Homo sapiens: one gene and its partners. The protein of the gene in region 2 interacts with the protein of the main gene of each other region in a pairwise test. Each region holds a gene or a part of one and is shown on either strand. Other genes may lie near its edges.

The links. The genes of interacting proteins can lie anywhere in the genome.
Region 1: the proteins of SPATA2L (region 2) and ATXN10 interact in binary tests that used the Homo sapiens proteins (3 or more experiments, as listed by UniProt).
Region 3: the proteins of SPATA2L (region 2) and ELAVL4 interact in binary tests that used the Homo sapiens proteins (3 or more experiments, as listed by UniProt).

The regions. Positions count from the first base shown.
Region 1 is NC_000022.11:45,736,935-45,746,298, forward strand, and holds part of ATXN10 (ataxin-10), read left to right. Parts: intron 1-1,796; coding exon 1,797-1,905; intron 1,906-3,434; coding exon 3,435-3,604; intron 3,605-9,364. UniProt on the Homo sapiens protein: May play a role in the regulation of cytokinesis. May play a role in signaling by stimulating protein glycosylation. Induces neuritogenesis by activating the Ras-MAP kinase pathway and is necessary for the survival of cerebellar neurons.
Region 2 is NC_000016.10:89,694,644-89,699,856, reverse strand, and holds the end of SPATA2L (spermatogenesis-associated protein 2-like protein), read left to right. Parts: intron 1-1,551; coding exon 1,552-2,523; 3' UTR 2,524-3,500; downstream 3,501-5,213. Other genes in the region: CDK10 (cyclin-dependent kinase 10), read right to left, coding at 4,165-4,262, 4,512-4,564, 4,787-4,926, 5,069-5,213.
Region 3 is NC_000001.11:50,111,021-50,120,384, forward strand, and holds part of ELAVL4 (ELAV-like protein 4), read left to right. Parts: intron 1-8,765; exon of another isoform or gene 8,766-8,951; coding exon of another isoform or gene 8,952-8,996; intron 8,997-9,364. UniProt on the Homo sapiens protein: RNA-binding protein that is involved in the post-transcriptional regulation of mRNAs. Plays a role in the regulation of mRNA stability, alternative splicing and translation.

The DNA of each region.
Region 1 (9,364 bases), on a different chromosome or scaffold from region 2:
TTTAAAGAGAAACTTTCCCTAACCAATTCTTAGGTTCTGTGAGGTACACTGGATGAAGAAAGGCAGGATAAGTGCTCGATTGTTTTCCCTCTTGATTACCAATCTTCAGAATAATGAGTTGGTTTTGTGGCATCATTCAAAGATGACCAGTGAGTTGGTTTGTTTTGTTTTATTTTCATTATGAAGCCATAGCTGTAAAACCGCTTGATTTGTTTTCAGTCCGTTACCGTTGTAATTCTTTCTGATGTTTAATGTGCCACTGCTGGCCGGTGGGAGCCTCATCAAGTTGTTTCTGATTCCGAATTTCTGACATGACCCTAGTAGCCTGTAATAGCGTCTTTGTTGTCTGCTATGACAAGATGTCCAGGGTTACCTTTTGCATGGGCTGTCCCAGGTCTGTTCTTGAAGGAGCAGTGGTATCTCACGATAACAATCTGGGCAGCTACACCTTTAACAAAAGAGGTTGATGAAGCTTTGTGAAATTGATGGAGTTGGTCAAGACTCGTTTTAACATGGTACTACTAATCTAGACTTCTAATCTAGATTTTCCCACTTAACTCTTTAGCAAAAGAAGGCTATGATATAAAATTAAAGATCCAAGACATTAAAAATATGAGTTGTTTTTTGCTATTTATTTTGAGATTTCAGAATACTATATTAATGTATTACCTTTAAATCTCTTAATTAGAAAACAGTAAATACACATTTAGAACTAACAAGGAAGTAATTTGTCTTTCTTTTGAAGAATGTTATCTCTTTTTTTTTTTTTTTTTTTTTTGTTTGAGGCAGAGTCTTGCTCTGTTGCCCAGGCTACAGTCCAGTGGCGTGATCTTGGCTCACTGCAACCTCTGCCTCCTAGGTTGAAACGATTCTACTGCCTCAGCCTCCCTAGTAGCTGGGATTACAGGCACCCACCACCAAGCGTGGCTAATTTTTATATTTTTTTTTACTAGAGACGGGATTTCACCATATTGACCAGGCTGATCTTGAGCTCTTGACCTCAAGTGATCTTCTGGCCTCGGCCTCCCAATGTGAAGAATGTTATCTTTATGGACTAACTTTATAATCTCTGCCACATTTTGTCAAATGATGGGTACTTTAAAAATGGGGTTCAAAATCTATACAAAAGTTACATTTAAAATTTTTGTATAGACTACTTAATGCTATGCAGTTGGTACTGGGTAGTTTCTTGGTCATGCAGTGTATTTGATAAATTATTTAGTAGCTATGTGAAGTAGCATTTTCAAACAGTACTGTCTTTCTAATCTACCAAGATATTGCATAGAAGTTCATATTTACCCAGAAATTATGCAAGTTCTTAAAGCCAGAGTTTTTTCAACCACAGCATTTTACAGGATTTCTGTGGACAAGAAATTAATGTATTTTATGGGATATTTGTATCTTTAAAGTGGAATTTGCATGCTGGGAATGCTTTAAAAAGAAAGTATTTGCATAAATGTCATGTACATAGCTAGTAATTTTGAACATTTATTCCACTGTTGGAATGTCTTTTTGCTTGAATAAGAACTTTTCTGACTCTTTGCTCCAAGAAGACACATAATGACACATAATCTTGCATTCTTGATGGCAGATGTCTGCTGTTAGTGAAAATGATGAGTCGTGTACATATTTCATACTTCTGTTTTGTTCTTCATAGTTTTGTTTTTCTCTTTGACTTATTACAAGCACAGACTCTTTAAATTTATTGAAATATTTTATTCTCTTACAGTTATTTATAACAGTTAAATAATTTCTCTTAAAATATGCTAAAAAGTTATGTTTTCTTTTCTTTCTAGGAGGCACTGGCTACAATTAGGCTTCTCGACGTCCTGTGCGAAATGACTGTGAATACTGAGCTGCTCGGCTATCTGCAGGTTTTCCCTGGCTTGCTGGAAAGAGTGATTGGTGAGTGAAATATCACACATTGTATTTTTAGCTAAGAAATCTTTGGCTTGTCATACTGTAATATAAATCCAAATACAAATCCTTAATTTTCAGTGTACTTTGGGAATTTTGTGAATATATTTTTTTGAGAGGAATCACAGTGTTGTAACAGTTCAGGCAGGCCAGATAAACCTGAGCCCATGTGTTTGTTCAGCCACTTCCCTTCTGTTAACTGAAGATTCCTTCTCAGTAATGTGAGGATAACAATGCCTGTTATGCATATAGTAGATGTTTCATCAATATAGGATGTGATGAAGAAGGTGGGGCAGGCAGGTTTGCGATGATGATTGTGGTTTTATATTACTATAGCTTTGTAAAATGTGGCAGTAAATTTTTCCCATTTACATTTAGTGAACACATAGAATGGTGTTTTATACATATTATATATACAAATCTTATGAGAAAAAGGTTTTAAACAAGAAACCATTGTTAAAAGTATTACCAACCTTGCTAAAAAGCTGTTTGCAAAATAATTCAAGTAGAACCTGTTCCTTGTGGCTAGCCATGCTTAGGTTTGCTGTTCATTATTTGCAATTTTTTCCTTTAAAAAGATGATACTTACTCTGGAGACCAGTGTCCTGAGAAAGATGACTTTGTGTCTAGCAGTATAGATGAGCTAGCAGTCAGCTGTAGAGGAAGATCCTTAGAATTCCTCATCAGTGTTGTATTTTGAGTACATTGCTTTTAGTGATAATTTAAATAAAACACCACAAACCTAGCACACTTGAGTGATTATGGAAGGAGCCTGAGTTTGGAGCCAGGGTCGATGTGGGTTGCCATCCCAGCTCTGCCAGGTGCCAACTTTTCTGAGCCTGTTGTTTTCTTCATTATAAAATTGGGAAAGTGATACCTTCCTGTATAGGTTTGTTGAGAGGGTTAAATGAGATAATGTGGAAACACTGAAATGCAGTTCCTGGAAGATTGTCTGTTTTCATTGGCTGCCTGGAGGTGCTCATAGAGTAGAGCAGTGGTAAGTTCTTTCTCCTGAATGTAGCTGGAGTGAAGTATAGAGAACATATGCTGGCTTCTGATGATTTGGCCAGTTGGATGAGGGAAAAATAAGCACTCTTCTTGGTTTCTGTCATATGCATCATTATGGATAGATATTGTGTTTTAGACTTCATTGACTGAAGTTATTAGAAAAGTTCTTTCATAAAGAAGTTGAGATTGGAAACCTTTTTGTAAGAAGGATGCTAGCAAACTTTTAGCTAACTTTTTTTGTAGATAAATAGAAACTCTGAGTTGGGGTAGTCATTATGGCTTATCTCCCCAAAACTAGAGTCAAAAAATTTAAAGCAAAGGCAGAAGAGCCTTCTAATCATTTTTTGAAGCAAAGGCAGAAGAGCCTTGTAATCATTATTTAAATAAAGCTTTCTGTGCTCTACCTTTAGCCTATTACAATAAATTAGATTTGTCTATGGAAAACTATTAGTACAACATACTAAAAGTTACTTTTCTGTGGAAAATGAAGTTTACTCTTTTGGTTATAGATCTTTTGCGGGTGATTCATGTAGCTGGAAAAGAAACCACAAACATCTTCAGTAATTGTGGTTGCGTGAGAGCAGAAGGTGACATCTCCAATGTGGCCAATGGGTTTAAGTCTCATCTCATTCGTCTGATTGGAAATCTGTGTTACAAGAATAAAGATAACCAAGACAAGGTAAGAGGATTTCTTAGTATGTATTATACATGTATGGCTTCATTTAGAATATAGTCCTTGGAAGACATTCACTCTTTTGGAGTGAAAGCTTGAGGTGCTTAGAAAGTAGCTTGGATAGAGAGATATATATTTTATATGAATACACACACACACACACACACACACACACACACACACACACATATATATACACACACACACGTGTGTGTGTGTGTGTATATATATATATGTATATGTTAATATATAGGCTCTTTGGAGCCTAGACAAATTTCTAACACACAGTAGATATTTAATAAACACTAGTTATTATTGCCTATTATCTTAAAAAACAAAGCTTAGATCTATATCCTATGTTTATGGACGATAGCATCATAAGCCTTTTCTTCTAGATGTTTTAAAATGGATATAAAAGGAATATAATATTTAAGTATGAAGTCTTTGAGGACCTAGTAGGCTGCTTTTAGAAACCTCTTATGTGCAGAAGAGCTTAAAGGTAGTTATATTGAGAATGTGAGAGAATGGTAAGAAAGATCTCAGGGCAGTTGGACCACATGCTTCAGATTGATCTCGCCTTTCTGTATTTTTCTGGAGTTTTACTTCGGGTGGCATTTGATTTGCTTAGTTAAATATTAATTAAATTTCTGCCAGATTATATTTTTCTAAGATGGTGGCAGAATGTCTTGCATTGTACATGTGTGTCTGCAGTATGACTTTGCCACTCCCCTGTCGAGGGTTGGCATCTATTTCTCCATCCACTTGAATCTGGGCAGGCCCTGTGGCTGCTGTGAGCAATCAAATATGTGATCCTATACCATTTGTAGCATAGCCCTTAACTGGTCTAGCTGATTCTATTTCTGGCTTCTTAGAAGCCCGTCACTATGTAAGAAGTATAGATTCCCAGAGATCACCTTGCTGCGAGTTGCTGAATACACATGGAAAAGCCCTGGAAGATAAGATACAATGAGGAGAGAGGAAAGGTCTGGTGAAGGAACATCAAGGCATGAGATGTGTGCGAGAAACCATCTTGGGAGTAGATCCATCCTCAGTTTCTTACTTGCCCAGCTGATGCCACATAGATCAGGGCCCCCCTACTGGGCATAGTCCTTCCTGAATTTATGACCCATAGTATTATGAGAAAAAGTAAAAAATAGAAAAAAAAAATAAGGGATATAGGTCCTGCTTCAGTTAGTAGCCCAGTCAGTTACTGTTGGACTGATCCTTCTTCAAATAGCAATTATAAACTTTGGACAAAAAATAGCCATGTGAAGACACTCGAATTTGACACAAACGGGCAGATTCTGGAGTGAAATTGATGCTTGGAAGAAGGGAATGACACAGTGTGTGGCATGCAGGGCAGTGAAAAGTCAGTTACAAAATCTTCCGTCTTTCTAGCTTGAAGAATCAAAGAACAGTTTGAGGGCAACCATGGCATTGGAAAGTGAGGGGGGAATTGTGGAAAGTAGAAAACAGACCCCAAACTCTGGGTGTCAGCTACCTAAATCTCTGCTAATGGCTGAATCACACGTGTGGGGCAGGCTCCAGGCAGCTAAGCTAAGGATGAAGTCATTGTATTGAGATTTGAGCTCCCACCCTAGAGTTTATAGTATTAAGTCCAACTTACACTGTAGATAATTAATAATTGCCCTCTAAAAAAAAAAATCAACACTCTTTAGAGGAATATAATATAATCCAGAATTGCCACAGCATAATGTATCCTGTAATGTCCAGGATACAGTTTACAATTGCTTGACGTTCAGGAAAATGTGACCTGTTCTCAATTGAAAAGATGATCAGCGGAGACTGACTGTGAGAGGACACAGATACTGGGCTTAGCAGACAAGGATTTTAAAGTACCAAATGTAACCGTGCTCAAGGATGTAAAGGAGATACGCTTCATAAGAGTGAAAAGGTGGGATATCTCAGCAGAGAAATAGAAACTATAAAAAAGAACCAAATGGAAATCCTAGAACTGAAAAATACAGTATCTAAAATAAAAAAAAAAAAATACCGAATGTGCTTAACCTCAAGAAAGATCACAGAGGAAAGAGCCAGTACACTTTAAGATACATCAGTAGAAATCATCTAGTCTGAAAAACAAAAGCGGGGAGAAAGATTGAAAATAAAACGGCCGCTTTAGGATGCTAAATGTTAGGGTAATTTGTTATGTAGCCGTTGATAGCTGGAATAATTCCTGTGAGACATGGCGCAGAACCAAACGCTAGACAACTTGCACTTTTAGTATATGGGCGCACCATTTTGGCAATCCTCATCTTCAGGAGAGTGAGACTACTGATTCCCCCCTTGGGAAATTACTGGACTGATTTTTGCAAAAGAAAGTTGATAGCGAATAAAGCACTTTACCTTTTTAATGACCAGGACTGCCTTTCTTGAGCACAAAAGAGGTGGTTTTTCTTGTGTTTAACTATTCTTTTGTTGCTAATTTGGACTGGCCTCTTATAGGAACAAAATGCAGTAACCCTTAAAAGGCTTGCGAAATAACTCACTGAAGTCAGGATCAGATTGCACCATAAGTAAATATGGAGTGTGCCCAAGTGCTGCTGTGCAGAGGTCACTGGGGCGCACAGGAAGTCGATGGTGTGTCCTGTCACTTGTGCAGTTGCTAATAGCACTGCTGATTTCTCAGCAAACAGTTTAGAGGGTATGAAGGAGTTCATTCTTTGAGTATCAACTCAAATGCCCTCTGTTTCTCTCAGTTTCTTACGTGTGTCAACAAAAGGCCTGAACCTGAAAGCATTACCTCTGGGATTTTTTTCCTCCTTCCAAAGACCGACACAACGCCGAAATCTTGTTCTGGATGTGCTAGAGTGTTCTTTATTCTTGTAGCCAAATCCTTGTTCCAGCTGGGTGTTACAGATATTTGCCTTGCTCATTGTTGCCTCAAGGGATGGAATTCACTCGCACTCAGATGACTTTGGTTATAGTTTTGGGAAAATGGAATGGATGGTTATGTAGCAGGTCTTTATCACGGGACCAGTAATTCTCAGTGTTTTGTCTTGATGGATTGTCTCACTTCTAACCCAGCTAGGGCTTTAAGGGAAATTTGGCTCTGTCTCTGCTCCAAGACTAAAGATCTGAGTTGGGAGGGATTTCGTATCATCTAGCCTAATTTGGGTTCCTCCTTTGCCCAGAAGACAAAAGGGACTGATGATTTATTGTTTAGTGTTTACTATGTCCTTGCATTGTGCTTAGTGAATTACATATATTATCAACTTTAATCTTTGCATCAGCCTTGCAAAGCAGGTTCTGGTAACCACATTTTAAGGAGAGGCCATCCAGTTAGGTGCAGAGCCCAGGGTAGAATTTGGATTTGTTTGCCTATTGAGTTCCCAGGCCTGTGCTCACTTCCTGCCCCATGGTGAGAACTTGCCAAAAGGTTGGAGAAAAGGGTTTAAAATAGACTTCCTGCAGGACTTCAGGCTGGAGGCTGGTCAGTCTGCGTCTCCTAGGCCAGCCAGGCCCCTTAGACTCCCTCCTGGTTGAAGTTGGGAGCTCTTGGGGGTCCTCTTATCCTTGTTTCTGATTCACCCATTCATCAAATACGAATGTTTGCTGGCTTGGGGATCCTTTGACGGGTAATTCAGGCAAGGTATTAATATCTTCTGTGGAGCTTCCATTCTGGCATCATCTGGGGACCATGCTTGCCTCTTTGAATCAGAATCTCAAAACTACTCATGACACAGATTTTCCTAAAATCTTTGTGTACTGCCTGATTCCTCTGAATTTTGAGCAAGACTCTTTCAAGCCCAACTGTGTCTGTGTTGTCTGTGTAACTTCATCCATTGCAGTGAGTATGGTGCCCACCTGCTGGATGGCCCTCTTACACTTGTGTGGCACTTTCCATTTTCCAGAGCTCTTTTCATCTGCTTTAGTTTGTTGGAGCCTTATGATACCTCTGTGGAAAGGGCTGAAAAGATATTTCCACCATCATTTTCTAAATGAAGAAACCAAGGCCCCGAGACCAAGTGTGATTTAACTCAGCTAGCACTTGCTGAGTGAGAATTGCCGTGTGCTGCATGCTCTGGAGAAGACAGTCGCTTTAGTGGTGGAATGACACATGTCCACTAGGAGCTGTAGCAAAAGTCCGTGTGGTGAGGCCTGTCAGAAAGGAACAGGGGGGTGATGTGTCCTCTGGGCTGGCTGTGCCAGGAGCATTTCTCTCTAAGGACAGGCACTGGACTGCCAGGAGCATGGTATCAACTGGAAGGATGGTCATCTTTCTTTGAGATACTTGTCTTTGGGCAAGATTTAAGAGAATCAAGGTACGTTGCCTCAGATTGAAAATCTGCACAGAAATGTATTTTATCCCAAATTCTCATGAGTCTTTAATGCTTAAGTCTGTACACGTGATAGATGTAGTGTTTCCTGAATTGTAAAGGAATTGCTAGACTTCCCTTTACCTCGTCATGGTAGGGAGGTGTCAAATCCTTACTGACTTCTATTCTTACCTTGTTTTTTTGTTCTCGACTTGTGTAGTATTTCCTTGCTACAACTGTAGTGATTAGTTTACTTCTAAACTTTTGTGGACCTAAATGGAGATTCTGTTTTGGTTTCTATTGTAAGAAGCACAAAGATACTAATGCTATAAACATGAAGAAAGCATTCTTCAGCTTCTTCTTTGTTAGAATAAGGAATGTATGGTTTACCTTTTTCTTCCCTATTCTTCTTCTTTTCACTATTGTCATAACCTCTTTAAGTGAATCTTTATTAGAAGAAAAACCAAACGTTTATTTCATAAAGCTAAGTGCATTTTTCAAATCGGACAGACAGATGATCTAGTTTATCTACCTTCCGCCCGCCAAGGAAATTGTATTGACTAGGATGGGCCATATATCCGTTCTGCTAAAGGTTATGGAACTGCTATTCAGTTTCTTCTCCTCCTCCTTCCTCCTCCCTGATTTAAAATATTCCCAGCAGTCACATACTTGATGATCCCATGTCAAATATATGTGCCTATAAATCTTTTACTATAAGCATACCTTAATTTTAAAGTAAGTCTGTACTGTATGAAAAAGTTCAACATGTAAAGACAAACTTTATTTGGCCCCTTCAGTTCTCAATTTTGAAGGCAGGTTCATTTATATACATAAAATAATCTTTGTAATACATTTTTCGTTAACTTTGTGTTGCTCATCATGTTACTCCCAGCATCTAAATTGTACCTGGCACATAGTAGGCATTCAGTAAATTTTTCTAATTTTTCTTGAATGACAATTTATTTGTAAAATAAATTGAATGTTGAATGTTTACTACATATCAAGTGCACTTTTAGGTTCTGAAGATACACAGCAAGTAAGACAGTTCTTTTCAAGGAGTGTAAATATTACTATACAATTTTCTGACTAAATTTACAAAGACTAGTAAAAATAGATAACTTTTCAAATGAAAATTAATGTTCCTTTAAATTCTGAGTTCTGTATTTTTGAAAGTCTTTTTTTATGTTTGAATATATTCTAATTTACTGTAATTTGCCATCGTTTTATTTGATCCAAATCATATATATTTTAGATTATAAGAACATCTGTATTGTATAATATTTGCAAGTAATTAAAAAATATTTTTTAAATCCTAGGTTTAGGCTTCGTAGATCTGAATGCGGTTTTTTCATTAATCTTAAATAAAATTTAAGACTGAATTTACAGTTGTTAAACATTCATAACATGATCAATTTTTAGTGGGTTTTTTGGTGGGGTGTACTATTTTCCACCCTTTTTGTATCTAGTTGCAAGGAGCCAAGAACAG
Region 2 (5,213 bases):
TCAGCCAGGCCGGGCGCGGTGGCTCACGCCTGTAATCCCAGCTCTTTGGGAGGCCGAGGTGGGCAGATCACGAGGTCAGGAGATTGACACCAGCCTAACCAACATGGTGAAACCCCGTCTCTATTAAAAAATACAAAAATGAGCTGGGTGTGGTGGCACGCGCCTGTAATCCCAGCTACTCAGGAGGCTGAGGGAGGAGAATCACTTGAACCTGGGAGGTGGAGGTTGTAGTGAGCAGAGATCGAGCCACTGCACTCCATCCTGGTGACAGAGTGAGACTCCGTCTCAAAAAAAAAAAAAAAAGAGCACTCACCCTTCTACCGTCCCACGGCTGTCAGCCCAGTGCATGGACAGCCTCTGGAGAGCGCTGAAAACAGACGTGTCACCCCCATGGTGGAATACTACACAGCAGGGGGAATGAACGTTACAGCTTCTGTCCTTGTCTGCAAGACTGTAGTGGAAAAAAACAAAGTTCAGAACAACACGTTTAAGAGGCTACCTGTCTAGCTTTGGTTAGAGACCTTACAAAGAGGTGAAAAAAAAGGGGGGACTACCTCATACGAGGAGCAAACGAAATCTGTATTTGGGTTTGCAAAACAAACACCTGGGCAAGTACATTCAAAACTAATTAGATGAGGCCATCTCCAGGGGTGAAGGGAGCGGTGGGACAGAAGACAGTGGAATTTCTCAGTACAGGGGCTCTTCATTTTGTTCTGATTTGTGAGCTAGGTTAATGTATTCATTGTTTTTTCCATTAAATTTAAGAAATTCGGCCAGGTGCGGTGGCTCACACCTGTAATCCCAGCACTTCGGGAGGCCAAGGTGGGTGGATCATGAGGTCAAGGGATCAAGACCTTCCTGGTCAACATGGTGAAACCCCGTCTCTACTAAATATACAAAAATTAGTGGGGCGTGGTGGTGCGCACCTGTAATCCCAGCTACTCAGGAGGCTGAGGCAGGAAGATCGCTTGAACCCGGGAGGAGGAGGTTGTAGTGAGCCGAGATCGTGCCACTGTACTCCAGACAGAGCGAGACTCTGTCTCAAAAAAGAAAAAAAAAAAAAAATTCTAGGCCGGGCACAGTGGCTCACGCTTGTAATCCCAGCACTTTGGGAGCTCAAGGCAGGCGGATCACTTGAGGTCAGGAGTTTGAGACCAGCATGGCCAACATGGTGAAACCCTGTCTCTACTAAAAATATGAAAATTAGCCGGGTGTGGTGGTGGGCGCCTGTAGTCCCAGCTACCCGGGAGGCTGAGGCAGGGGAACTTGCTTGAACCTGGGACGCAGAGGCTGCAGTGAGCTGAGATGGAGCCACTGCACTCCAGCCTGGATGACAGAGCAAGACTCTGTCTCAAAAAAAAAAAAAAAAAAAAAAAAAAAAAGAAATCATCATGTTTGGGCCTGGCCCAAGCTGGCTAAGCCTAGTCTCTGGGGTTGGGTCTGAGCATCAGAAGCTGCCAAGGCCTGAGCCAACAGATCCCGGACCCACTGTACCCTAGGGTCTGGCCTATGGGAGGGTGGGCAGTCACTGACCTGGCCGCTCCCTTGCAGACCTTCTCTGGGGGCTACGTGCACGTGCTGAAGGGTGTGCTCTCAGACGACCTCCTCCTGAAGAGCTTCCAGAAGATGGGCTACGTACGCAGAGACAGCCATCGGCTCATGGTGACCGCCCTGCCCCCCGCCTGCCAGCTGGTGCAGGTGGCCCTGGGCTGCTTCGCCCTCCGGCTGGAGTGTGAGATCCTGGGTGAGGTGCTGGCCCAGCTGGGCACCAGTGTGCTGCCAGCTGAGGAGCTGCTGCAGGCACGGCGTGCCAGCGGGGACGTGGCCTCCTGTGTGGCCTGGCTGCAGCAGCGGCTGGCCCAGGATGAGGAGCCGCCACCCCTGCCCCCCCGAGGCTCCCCTGCTGCTTACAGGGCCCCACTGGACTTATACCGGGACTTGCAGGAAGACGAGGGGTCGGAGGACGCCAGCCTGTATGGGGAGCCGTCACCAGGCCCTGACTCGCCCCCGGCGGAGCTGGCCTACAGGCCACCACTCTGGGAGCAGAGTGCCAAACTGTGGGGCACTGGGGGCCGGGCCTGGGAGCCCCCAGCTGAGGAGCTGCCGCAGGCCAGCAGCCCACCATATGGGGCCTTGGAGGAGGGGCTGGAACCTGAACCTTCCGCCTTCTCCTTCCTCTCTCTGCGCCGTGAGCTGAGTAGGCCTGGGGACCTGGCCACCCCTGAAAGCTCTGCAGCGGCCAGCCCGAGGCGTATTCGGGCAGAGGGGGTACCAGCCTCAGCCTATAGGTCTGTCTCGGAGCCCCCAGGCTACCAGGCACACAGCTGCCTGTCCCCTGGCGCCCTGCCCACCCTCTGCTGCGACACCTGTCGCCAGCTGCATGCTGCCCACTGTGCAGCCCTGCCCGCCTGCCGTCCAGGCCACTCGCTGCGTGTGCTGCTTGGCGACGCCCAGCGGCGCTTGTGGCTACAGCGTGCACAGATGGACACTCTGCTCTACAACAGCCCCGGGGCCCGGCCCTAGGCCAGCTGGGCCCCAGGTCAAGGGCTCTTGGGAGACAGCTCCCGTGGTGCTTCTCTTTGCTGGGGAGGGGTCTGGGCCTCTGGTTGCCTTGTCCCTGGGGGAGTCCTGGGCACAGCAGGGGGTTGGAGAGTCCAGGCCAACCCTTGCTGGAGGTGGGACTCTCTGTATATGGAAGGCTCCAAGGGCAGCAGGCCTAAGCCGGCCAGCAGGAGCCTTTCCACATTTCCCCACCCTCGGAACCCAGACGCATGCCCACATGTGCTGGGTAGAGGGGTCCAGCCTGTTCCAGCCAGTGCCTGAACCTGTCCCTGAGAAGGACCCTGTGCCCCAAGGCCCGTGGCTCCTGGCCTGCTCCCTGCAGTACGGAGTACGGGGCTCAGGACTTGGGGGTCCTCCACGTGTCCCAGGGATTCTCCACACGAGTGTCCTCAAGGGCCTGTTGGTGACACCGAGCTCCCCCCACCCCAAGCTCTGCTGGAGCCAATCTGCGGGGCTCTGCCGGGTGCACGGCTGACCTGGCTTCGGGGACGCCGGCCCTCCCCTTGGGTGTCACAGCAGCTGGGCCCACAGACAGGAAATGACCTGACCTCAAACCAGATGTGGAGGTGCACGAGAGGCGCAGGAACGGGCAGTGGCTGACAGCTGGGAAGGCCCTGAGCGTCACTGCTGCTGGGCGGAAGGGCCTGTGGACAGCCCGCCCAGGCGGCGGGGTCTTGGTGGGTCCAGTGGTAATGGTGCCCCTCCCCTCCATTCCCTGTGGGTGCAGCCCACAGGCTGGCGAGGAGGTGCCTCTGCCCTACCCTCGGGTCTGGCGAGGGAGAGGGCAGGGTGCATCCACTGTGACAGCCCCTCTGGGCCCACAACTCCCTGACCCTGGAAGCTGAGCCTGCTTTCCTGACCCTCCGCCCCACCCCCTCCTCCCCAGAACACTCAGAGGGACGGTCAACATCAGAGCACATTAAACGCTGGTGAAACCATGTCTGTTAAAAAAGCTTTTATCCAACAAGAGCCTATAGCTTCGCTCAGCATCAGAGCCACGGCCTCCTGTTGGGTCCTCCATGTGGGGAGCAGGGATGCAGCTCAGCCTCCAGCCCAGGGCTCTCCTGGTAGTCTCGGGGTATCCTCAATTGTGGCTCCCACCCCATACCTTGTCCCTCTTGTCCTCATCTGGAGTCCTGCCAGGCCCACCTGGGGTCCCCACAGCCAACCCATGCACGGGACAGCCCCGGGCGACTGAGAGGGGATACGAAGGTCTTCTGGGCCCTCTCATCCCAGGCCAGCGTCCACCACAACTCAAAGACAGCGGGGGGACTGCACCCACCACTCCTCCCAAGAAGCAGTGGTTGCACATTTCCAACATAGCGAGGAGGACCACATGAGACCCCTGCAGCCACGGATGGAGCCGCCAGACCTGCCCTTCCAGGGTGCACGGGCTGGGAGCCCCCCGGTGTCACCCGGCCTTTTTCTGGGGGCAGCAGTGGGTTCAGGGCAGACAGTGGGAGGAAGTCAGTGGAGGATGTTCCCAGCCAAGGGGATGAGCTGGATCCCGGGCGCCTGGTCAGCCTGGCTCGCGGCACCCTTCACAGACACCACTGATCGGAAGACCTGGTGTGGGAATACAGGCGTGTGCCAGGCCCACCGTCAGGGTTTACAGCGCTTGCTCTGGCCCTCGGAGGTGGCTGGGGCGGCCCGCTTGTTGCGGTGGTGGGGAAAGGTCGGCATGAGCTCCGGCTCACAGGCTGCAGGGAGAAGGGTTCAGTGCTGGGCGGGGCAGGGCCCCAGATAGGAGGAGCAGGCCCAGGTCTGAGTCCAGCTCTGCCTCTGGACCTGGCCCTGGGCTGTCTGTGCCTCCACATGCCCCTGTCCTCTTACCCCAGAAAGGGTGTGCCGTCAGTGAGGGCAGCAGGCCACTTCTCCACCACCCACCCCGGGCAAAACGGGCTCCCAGCCATACCCCACAGAGCGAGTCAGGAACCCTGCACACTCACGTAGGGGCTTCTCCTTGAAATAGGAGCTCTCCAGGCAGTCCCCGGCCGTCGCCCTGGAGGAGGCAGCCTGCGTTAGTGCGACTTGTGAGTGCGGCTTCCTCACCTCCCACCCAGCTGAGCAGCCTGTGATTCAAATGCTCAAAGGAAGCCAGGTGGCCACTCCGAGCGGCTGTGCCTGGGGAGGGGCCTCTCCACCGCAGTGAGGCTGGGCTCTGGGAAACGGTCTGGACAGTGTGGGTGGTGAGGGTCCCTGCCCCCCGTGCAGAGATCAGCACCTTTTCTTAGGGTCGTACATGAACAGGAAGTGCAGCAGGCGCAGCCCGGCCTCCGACAGCCATGGGAACTTGTGCTTCAGGTTGTTGTAGGGCTGCTTCCGGAGGCTGTACTGGCCGACCAGTGGCAGCTTGGAAAAGCCCTATGGGAGGCAGGAGCTGAGGCGCAGAGGGCGTGGGCACGGGCGGGGGCTGCGGGCGCAGAGGGCGTGGGCACGGGCGGGGGCTGCGGGCGCAGAGGGCGTGGGCACGGGCGGGGGCTGCGGGTCTGCCCAGGACGCCCACCGGCCAGATGTTCTCACTGGGCGTGCCCAGCAGCTGCACGATCAAGTCGATCTGGTGGATCTCGGAAGTGCCGGGGAGAAGAGGCCTGTGCGCCAGCAGCTCGGCCAGTATGCAGCCCACAGCCCTGCAGAGAACAGTGGACCTC
Region 3 (9,364 bases), on a different chromosome or scaffold from region 2:
AGCCCAACTTTAATTATTCGTTATTAATAGGTGTTAATTACATTTCTAACTCTGGTTTACAGTGATTTTTAGAAATCTATTTTTAAGCATCTGTTCTGTCTCCCCTGTTTTTGTGTGTGTGTGCGTGTGTGTGTGCGCGTGTGGTTTTTGTTGTTGTTGTTGTTGTTTAAAAAACCCAGAGAGGAGGTGAGGGGGAAGGGAGGGTAGGGAATCTTGCTTTTTTTTTTTTCCTTTTTCCCCCTTTTCCCTGGTGTGAAATTGTACATGCGAAAAATCGCAAGGAATCCTGTGAGACCATTTGAAAAAATGTAAATTATATTGAATGAAGTTGACGGAAGCATAATAGTGAACTCCCACAGCTGATAGGTTCTGCAAATGATTTCTTAGAAATTTCCAGCAAATATTCATAGGAAAAATATAGGTAGAATAGATCTACCCTAAGCAATGATTTGGGGTTAGGTGATTTTGGTATTTTTACTAAATCGGATGTTGATACTATAGTTTCAGGGGAATTCATTGTACCTCTCATTTTTTTCCTCAGTAGAAATTACTTTACAAAATAATAAATGAAGAGCTTTTTGCTTTCCTTCTTTCCCCATGCCCACAGTCACAGGATCCATCAGGCTTGCACTCTCATAACCACTGCCTTCCATTTGGCATTTGGTCCTGATTCTGGTCTTGGCACAAACTGAGTGAAAAGCTGATTTTTATATTAGTGTCTTTGGACGTCTGGGACCCATGTGTGCACTGGGTGACAAGCATCTCTCTTTTTTCTCTAAATGTGCTTTACTAATAGTCTCTTTTTCTCATGATGGTGGGTACCATAAGGATTGAAAGGTGTAGTATTTGGGTGAACAGGAGATAGCGTAAAAACAATTGAAATGGTGATCTGTTAGGGTTTTTTACTAAAGGACAAAATAGATGCATGATCAGGGAGCTAATTGTAAGCCCAAAAATGAGAGATTTAAAAATGCTGAAATACACTAAAAGATTAGGAAATATAATTGGCTTTATTGAAAGTACACTTAATTTTTGCTCTCTTCATTGCAAATCCCCCCAATTCTTTTTTCCTTGCAGATGCGTCTTTTTGTTTTCTCTTCTTATTAGGGGATTTAAAAATTTTATTTTCACTCTTGAGGTAAAAATAAATAAACTTGTATTTTTTGTCATACACTTGAAACTTGCGGCCATATGTTGAGTGCATAAGCCTGTGTCACCTTTAAAAAAATAGAATTTTTTTAAGTCTCCAATATAGTTTCTTTTTTTATTTTCTGAGAATTTTCTGGCAATTTTTAGTTAGGGGAAAATAATTTCTGTAAGAAGTGTCATCTTGGCTTGGGTTGTAAAAAAGACACGTGGTTCTGATGCTGACCTTTCTCGATCCTTTGTCTTAAAAATATTAATGCCTACTACCTTCATGTGGAGTTGTGCTCTTATGGAAGCACAAGGCTGAATGTGCATTTATTAAGAAGTGAAAATCCAATTGGAAATATTTCTGCAAAAAACATCTGACTAAGTAGCAGTTTTAATGATCAGAATGTCCATATATCTCATAGTAACATAACAGCTAAATCATTTAATATTTAAATTTTTGAAAGGGTAAAATTAACATAGATGAGGAAGTAGCTGAAAAATTACTTTGAGAATTGTTGATTTACAAGACAATTTAATATCTCATTTTTTAAAAAGCTAACAAACAACTTAACCATTCATTTGTGATCTCAGTCCCATTCATTTTTACCTGCCATTCATTCAAGTCATTCTCCTGGCCAGATGTAGATGGCCTTGCTTCTGTTTGATGGTTTGCACAAAACCTTAAAACTTTTTCTCTCCCAATACTCCTTCCTTGGTCCTTTGAAAATTAGGGTGTTGTTATGAGAGGAAGGCCAGATTGTTGTGAGATAATAACAATAGAATATTTAGAAAGAGAGAGAGAGAAAGAAAATGAACTGCGCATTTGCCTTTTAGTTCTAAACTTAGTCTTGAAATTGGATTTGGGACACTTTGGACTTCAGATATTTTAAACTTAGGATTTCTATTAGGTATAAGCTATTTGAAATTTCACATCTAGAAATTATTGTTTGAATGGTGCTTTGTATGTGTGTGTTCAATATCTCTAAAAGGACTTGTGGATGAATTGAGATGTTTTTCTCAAGTTAGAGTTACTGTGAACAACAATGGGATTTCCTCAGAGTAAGTCTTTTTTTTTTTGGTTTGATTTCTTCCCTTTACACTTATTTCCTTATTATAGGTGGGTTCTTTTCCTATATGTAGGCCAAATACTATTTCTTCCATGAGGAGATATGCTGCTTCATTTAGCCCTGAGCATCTTAACACCTTATTTTAATTTTTTTAAAAAAAGAAACAAATTGTCTGTATGTACCTCAAGTAAGAAATGGTTGTCTTCATAGAGGTCATCATACATAGACGAAAGTACTTTGGCCTTGACAAATTTCTTCATTAGCTCCAATGATCTGTGGCCACCAGGCAGTTAATTTATATGCCTAGACATTTAATATGTACATTTGTTGGTGAGCTGGCCAGAGGATGCTAAACACACGAGTATGCGCTGGCAAATGCTGCAATGCAGTATTTTTTTCCCAATGTCATTGGGAATTTTGGGGCTAGGAAGGGACATGAACATTTTCAAGCTTTTATCTTACTATTGTCCAGTCGATGGGCCATGTTGTACAGATTTGGTCAATTCTCCTTTTGAAAGTAAAGTCAACCTTTTATTTACCACTATCCATTCCCCCATCCATGTAATGTATATGTGGAAAGTGTGTGTGTGCGAGAAAGAGAAGCAGAGAGACTCTGTGTGTATCAGTATAAGTGTGTTGCAGATTCCTGCACCTGTCTTAGGCTTTCCTTATTTGGTATTACTAAACATGTATACACACTTACTTGCAAGTATATGTGCATCTATAAATGGAGAGAAAACCAAACTGGGCTGCTTCCCATAAGAACTGGTTTCTCTTCATGACTCCAAGAGTTCTCATATTAGAAAAATATGAAATTTCAAATATTCATTAAAAAATATATATTCAGACCCTGCAGTCTGTTAGTAACCAAACACCTTTCTTTAGCTGCCACTTAAGAAATTATAAGTGTGCAAATGCATAACAATGTTTGTGAGCTAAAAGCCATCCCTTCAATCAAGGGCCTGGGTATGAATTAAAATGTGTGTATGTGAGTGTATATGGATATGTGTATATGTATGGGGGGCGGTGGGCAGGATGTTTTTCTTTGAGGGCATTTGAACCTAGTCTTTACCATTGGTAAAAATAAGGAGGCGGTAAGATGGAAGTGTTAACATCTGTGCTTTGCTTTGTAAGTTGGTGTGCAAGTGTGTGTGTATTAGGAACATCCTTATATTTGTGAAATCTCCACGTATTTTAGGGGTAAAGGGCTTTTATAGGTCACTGGCTTTCTAAGGGTAAAAAAAAAAGAAAAGGTGATCTGTGGGTGGGTGGGAGTCACAAGCAGTAATTGTCTTAAATTAGCTATTTAGCAGTGAAAAGGAAAAAAAGGCTGGAAGACAAGAGTGTAGAAGAGTACCAACATGTGGGTCTGCATCTTTCCGGTATAGGAGATAATGAGTGATAAATTTGAACTGGTGCAGTGCAAGATGCCCGATAATTTCTCTGAACCTTGACTTTGCAGGTCCATTACTTCCTTGCTTGCTTGTTCACACCTTTAATTATATCCAGTTTGGGATGCTAGCTGGGGGCACCACAGATAAGCCATTTTGTTTGTTGTTTACTTCATTAAGTATTCAGGCAGTGTATTCACAGTAGCTTTGGAGCATCAGTGTTAGGAATTGAGCAGTTTGGAAATGGAATTGTTAAAAAAGAACAAAAAAATAAGACAGCAATCAGCCAGCTAGCTTGCTTTGGATGTTCACATCCACTCTGCTTAATGGTAATATTTATGCTTTCCCTTGCACATTAATTAAGAAATAACTTACGCAGTGTCAGGGCTCTTAATAGGCTGGTGACTTTCTCTCTCTTTCTCTGTCTCTGTCTCCGTCTCTCTGTCTCTCTCTCTCTCTCTGTCTCTCACTCTAGCTCCAGCTGTCTCTTTCTCTCCACCCCACCCTTGAGACTGTCTTTGCTCAGAACATTTTAAGACCAACCAATTTTGCTTTAGGGGAGCTCATATTCAGATCCTTGTTGTATCTAATACCAAAGGTATTTCTCCCCTCAATAAAGATCCCCCTCTACAAGGATCAAGAAATGCTGAGAGCCCTAAAGGAATCCTTAAATAAATTTTGGTTGAGAAAGCAGTAGAAGTGTTGAGGAAATAAGGTCAGTGTAATTTTTGTGCTTGCGTTTTTGTTTTTTGTTGTTTTTGGAAAGTCTTATTTTTAACCCCAAAAGTAAAATGCAAAACTAGCATATGGGATTTTTTTAATGAAAAAAATATATATGTCTTAGGTCTCTCCTGAAAATAACCTCCCTTGGACTCTTCATTTGAAAAATAACATGTAAACTTTAGCTTAATTTTTGAATTACTCATTTTAAACTATAAAATATAGTTCATAAATATTTTTTCCATAGGAAGTTTAGTTCTTTTTTCAGGCTATGGGGAAGCAGAGAAATGACCCAGCGAAGATGGTGAATTCTGAAAAAAACACAGCATGGAGGTTTCCTCTGTTTGCACTTCGTAGCATTGAATCTTCTCCTGCTTCTATGAGTTATCCTTTAGCCCTTAAAGTTGTTTTGCCAACAGTGTTCATAATAGAGACTGACTGTCATTCCTTGTTGGGTGAAGATGTATTTGTTGAGGACTTACTATGTGCATTTCTTTGGAACGTGGAATCCAAGGTCACCATTTCTTTTTCTTTTGACAATGATCAGAAGACATAATTAATTAGAGGATAAGTCCCTGTGATTGGAGATGAAGTTAGGGTGAGGGATTTTTAAGGTGGCACATTGCACAATGAGGTTTGTGTCAAATAGTAAGAAAAGGTCTGCTGGAACATTCAAGTACATAAATGTCTTTCCTTCTGTATTTATAAGCATCTAGGTGTGACTCCAAAAGATAGAAATAAGAGATCTTTTGGACATTTTAGTCTATAAGGTTTCATGTGTCCACATCTTCAGCCTCAGGAAGAAATATAGAAGTTTGGACTGTTGAAAGGAACTTGTCTTTCAGTCAGCAGCCCATGAAGCTTGGCTGAAACTGGTTAATTTTACAGAAACACGAATGTCTTGCCTCCTTGCTTCTGATGTAAGTGGCTTTTTGAATTCCTTTTCCTCTGTTACCTCCCAGGAGCATCTGAACAGATAGTGACCGTTTTGGCATGCCAAATTGGAAGTTTGCTAGTGGAGCAGAAATCATAGTTACTTTGTCATATACATCTAAATACTGTGGTGTGTGTGTGTGTGTGCGTGTGTGTGTGTGTGTGTGTGTGTGTCATGTGTTGTAGACAGCTGGGAGCCCCGGTGTGCCGTGGGATGTGCCAATAATGGCTTCTAAAGTACTCTGTGTTTTCCTAAGCTGCCAGTCTAAACCCTTTAAAGGTTTGCTTTCTAATTTGTACATGAAAAATAACAGGCTGAGTTGAACTTTTTTTTTCAAGTGCCCCCTTTGAAGATGCAGCAGTAGTAAATACTGCTCTAATGATAAACTTTAGTTCTAAGTGCTACTTAAAAGTCTGTAGTAGAAAGGCTGAGAACTTGCCATCTTTACTAATGAAGCTTTCCTTAGGAAAATGCTCACTTAAAAGGGAGTAAATGACCAAGTCCCTGAAATTTGTGATTTTTACCAGATTTGACTTATCTTTTCTTATTTTACTTTTTGTAATGCAGCCAACCACACATCCAAAATTCTTGGTATTATACATGTCTTCAACATTAATTATCTCTGTTGATGCACTGGGTACAGATAGTACAGTTCCCACAAGTCCAGATTCTTACTGTAACACCAAAACAAAAGTGATATTTATGAATAATATTGGGAAAGTTGTCCTCATAGTAACCATTCCCCAAAGGAAGCTTTACATAAATGTGCACTTATTATTCAGGATATTAAAAGGGAATCGTTAGCTTTTACTTTTTAATTTGGGCTAAAATATGTAAATTGGTTTTATTTTGGAGTTTCTCTGTTTTAGGTGACTTTGGGGGAGGATAACTTTCTAGCTTGATTATATTTTAATCACCTCTCTAGTGGAAAAGTTAATCTTAAAAGCAACCTGCTTATTGTGATTAGGACCCAGAGGGCCTGTGTTCAGATGGGGCTAAAAACATATTATATTGACCTGTACACACGTAGAAAAATTAGATTTATTTCTACTAGATACCGCTATTACCATGCCTTTGTTGGCAAGGCTATCTCAGAGACCAGAGAACCGTGAGTCTGCCTCTGGCCTCCGAGGAACATCACGGTGTGCCTGTACAGGCAAGCCTCTAAAAAGATTGTTCTTTGTCTTAAGAAACTGGCAAGTGCAAAGGACTTCAGAGTCAGTTGAACTTAAGTTGGAATCCTAGCTCTTCCAGTTACTAACTGGGCAATCACAGATGAGTTACTTCAACATGAGCCACAATTCCTCATCTTTAAATGGTGATGACAATATCTAACTCACAGGGTTTCTGCAAGAATCAGATGAGAAACAGTATTTGAAGGCACCAGTCATACATAGGACTTGAAAATTGAAGGTGCTTTGAGGGTGTTAAGTCTCTTTCAGTCTGTCAGTCTTTCTGTCCCTTGGCAAAAGCCCTTCCCCAGAAAGAGGCCCATCTGCCCATGCCAGATGTCCTGGGCAGTGACATTGTATGCTACCCTCACTGTCTCCATACTGTCCCCAGCATGCAAGAAGGGTGGCACACAGTGTTGTTGTTTTTTTCTATATAGACAAGCCCTCAGTTCTTCCTCGGAATTGTATGGCTTTATTAAGTTTTCTGCATCCTCCTAGGATTTCACAAGCTGTATCCATGATCTCCTTTGGAATTAGAATTCACTTGGGATTTAGTTGTCAAAAGAGAAAAACGATGAAGATAAAATTAATTTTAACCAGTGCTGTTTTTTTAATTTCATGAAAGAGCCTGTTAGGAAAGTTAAAAGTCAGCCAGAAAGAAAATAAAAATAGGCTGAGCTTAATTGATATGGTCCCATCTTTGCTGTCTGTATATTGTAACTTGCAAATTATTTGACTTTTTCCCAGAAACCAACTTACTTCAGATCTATTTTTTTTCCTTTTCACTGTATCAGCTGTTTTCCTCCTTTCCCCTTGTTTTCCCAATAGGCTGAACTTTGAAGTTCTGTTTCTCACGGAATGGTGAAGAGGTTGAGGCAAAAAGTGGCTTAATGAGATTTTTGTAACTTGCCATCAGTTTTCCTTCTGCTTGGCAAGGCAGCATGATGGATGGCTTTGGCAGTGTGAACACCTCTAGAAGTGATCAGATTGACTGAAGAGATGTGCAGGATGTCAGCAGAATGCTGACCCTCAATTCATTACCCTCCCATTTGAAGGAAAAAAAAAGAGAGAGAGAGAAAAGAGGAAAACAACCACAAAAGCCTTGGCGTAGTTGTTGATTACACACACTTGGGAAGGGGTAATGGGTCGCGTCAGGACTGGTGTTAGGTTAAACCTAATTTTGTACCTTTTCCCCAAGGGTCTGAAGGGGGAAATAAATAAATAGGCACCATAAATTAATTCACAAATTGTTCTAAATGGGGACCTGTTGCTGTGACCTGTTGCCGTTATGAAGAAATAATACAAATTGTCCTGAAGGGATTCAAGATTCAAATTGAAAACACAATCTTGAAACACCGATTTTGAATTCTACTTCATATGCTTACAGGAAGGATATAAAGGGAAGTCGATTTTTTTCTTCAATGTAATCCTTAAAGTAGGGGAAGGGGTTATTAGTTGATCTGATATCCCAAATGCCATTTTGCAGGTCCTATGCTAAAAAAAGAAAGAGAGAGAGAGAGAGAGAGGGAGGGAGGGAGGGAGGGAGAGAGAGAGAGAGACAGAGAGAAAGAAAGAAAAGAAAGGAAAGAAAGAAAGAAAAAGAAAGAAAGAAAGAAAGAAAGAAAGAAAGAAAGAAAGAAAGAAAGAAAGAAAGAAAAAGAAAAAGATCCTTTGCTATGGAACAGGCAGACAATAAAACTTTTCTCTTTCCATATGAATCTATTTTAAGTCTTCACCAAGAATCTTTGGAGGATTTTGCAGGTGTGTGTCTATACATATTGTATGTGATGTGCAAGCTCTCTGGAAGAATTTGGTTGGTTTTTAGACTGTGTTTGTATGGGCAGAAATATATCTGTAAAAAGCGGGAGGGACTTGATTTTGGAGAAGGGATGGTATAGAAGATGTTTGTCCATATTTTAGCCTTGGAAAATCTCATGCCTATTAATGAAGGACAAAAAAGAAATGATTTACTGATTTGAGCAGGCAAATGAGAAGGTTGGATATTCTTAGGACCTTCTTGCTAGGTAGGTGTTTGTTTATTTAAAAGTTAAAAATTCATCCATATTTAGGTCAATACTTGAATCTCAGTTCCTTCTTTTTTTTAGATTTCTGGCTGAAGTTTTTCATGAGAAGAAAAAAGACTTGGAGCTTAGAACTGCTTTAGTAAGAACTATTAAACAGGTCTCCAGTCATTGAATTTTGGAGGCATGGGCTTGCAGTTGGTATAATCTTAACAGTATTCTTCCTGAACTATCCCATGTCCATTTCCCAAGAACAGAAGAACAAGTTCGCATTCTAGAACTTCAGCTGTTCTCAGCATAGTTCTGCTTGTAACAGATCTGTGACCATAGAGATCATCTTTCATGTTCACTCAGCCTTGTATAATTTTTGCCCTATGGTGTCAGTTTGATCTCTTTAATGTAATTAGGGCAGGTACTGTTAACTCTTTTTTATAGAAAATAAAGCTTAGCCACTTGACTAAGCTTGCACGTTTAGTAATATCAGAAGTCTTCGCTCCAGAGTGTTTGGGAATATGTCCAGCTCAGCCAAAGTTTACTTTTCTTGGGGGAAAAATAAGGTAATTTCTCTTCTATATCAAATTTTTCGTTGGAGAATCAACAAATATATATATATATATATAGCATGTCTGTTGCATATAAACCATATTCTAGATGCATCCTGGAGCATCATAGTATTTAAAATATATTATAGTAAGCAAGGACAATGGCAAGCAGAATGATGTGGACAGTGTCTCAGCAGAGGAGGTACAATGTACAAAAGAGGGAGACATTAGTTCTTGTTGGGGGAAGGAGACAAGCTTCATGGAGGAAATGCCATTTGAGTAGAGCCAGGGAAACTGGATAGATGGAAAAATTAGAAGAAAGGGGAATTCCACATGGAGAGAATCATATGAATAAAGGCATAGAGATGGGAACTTACAAGGCC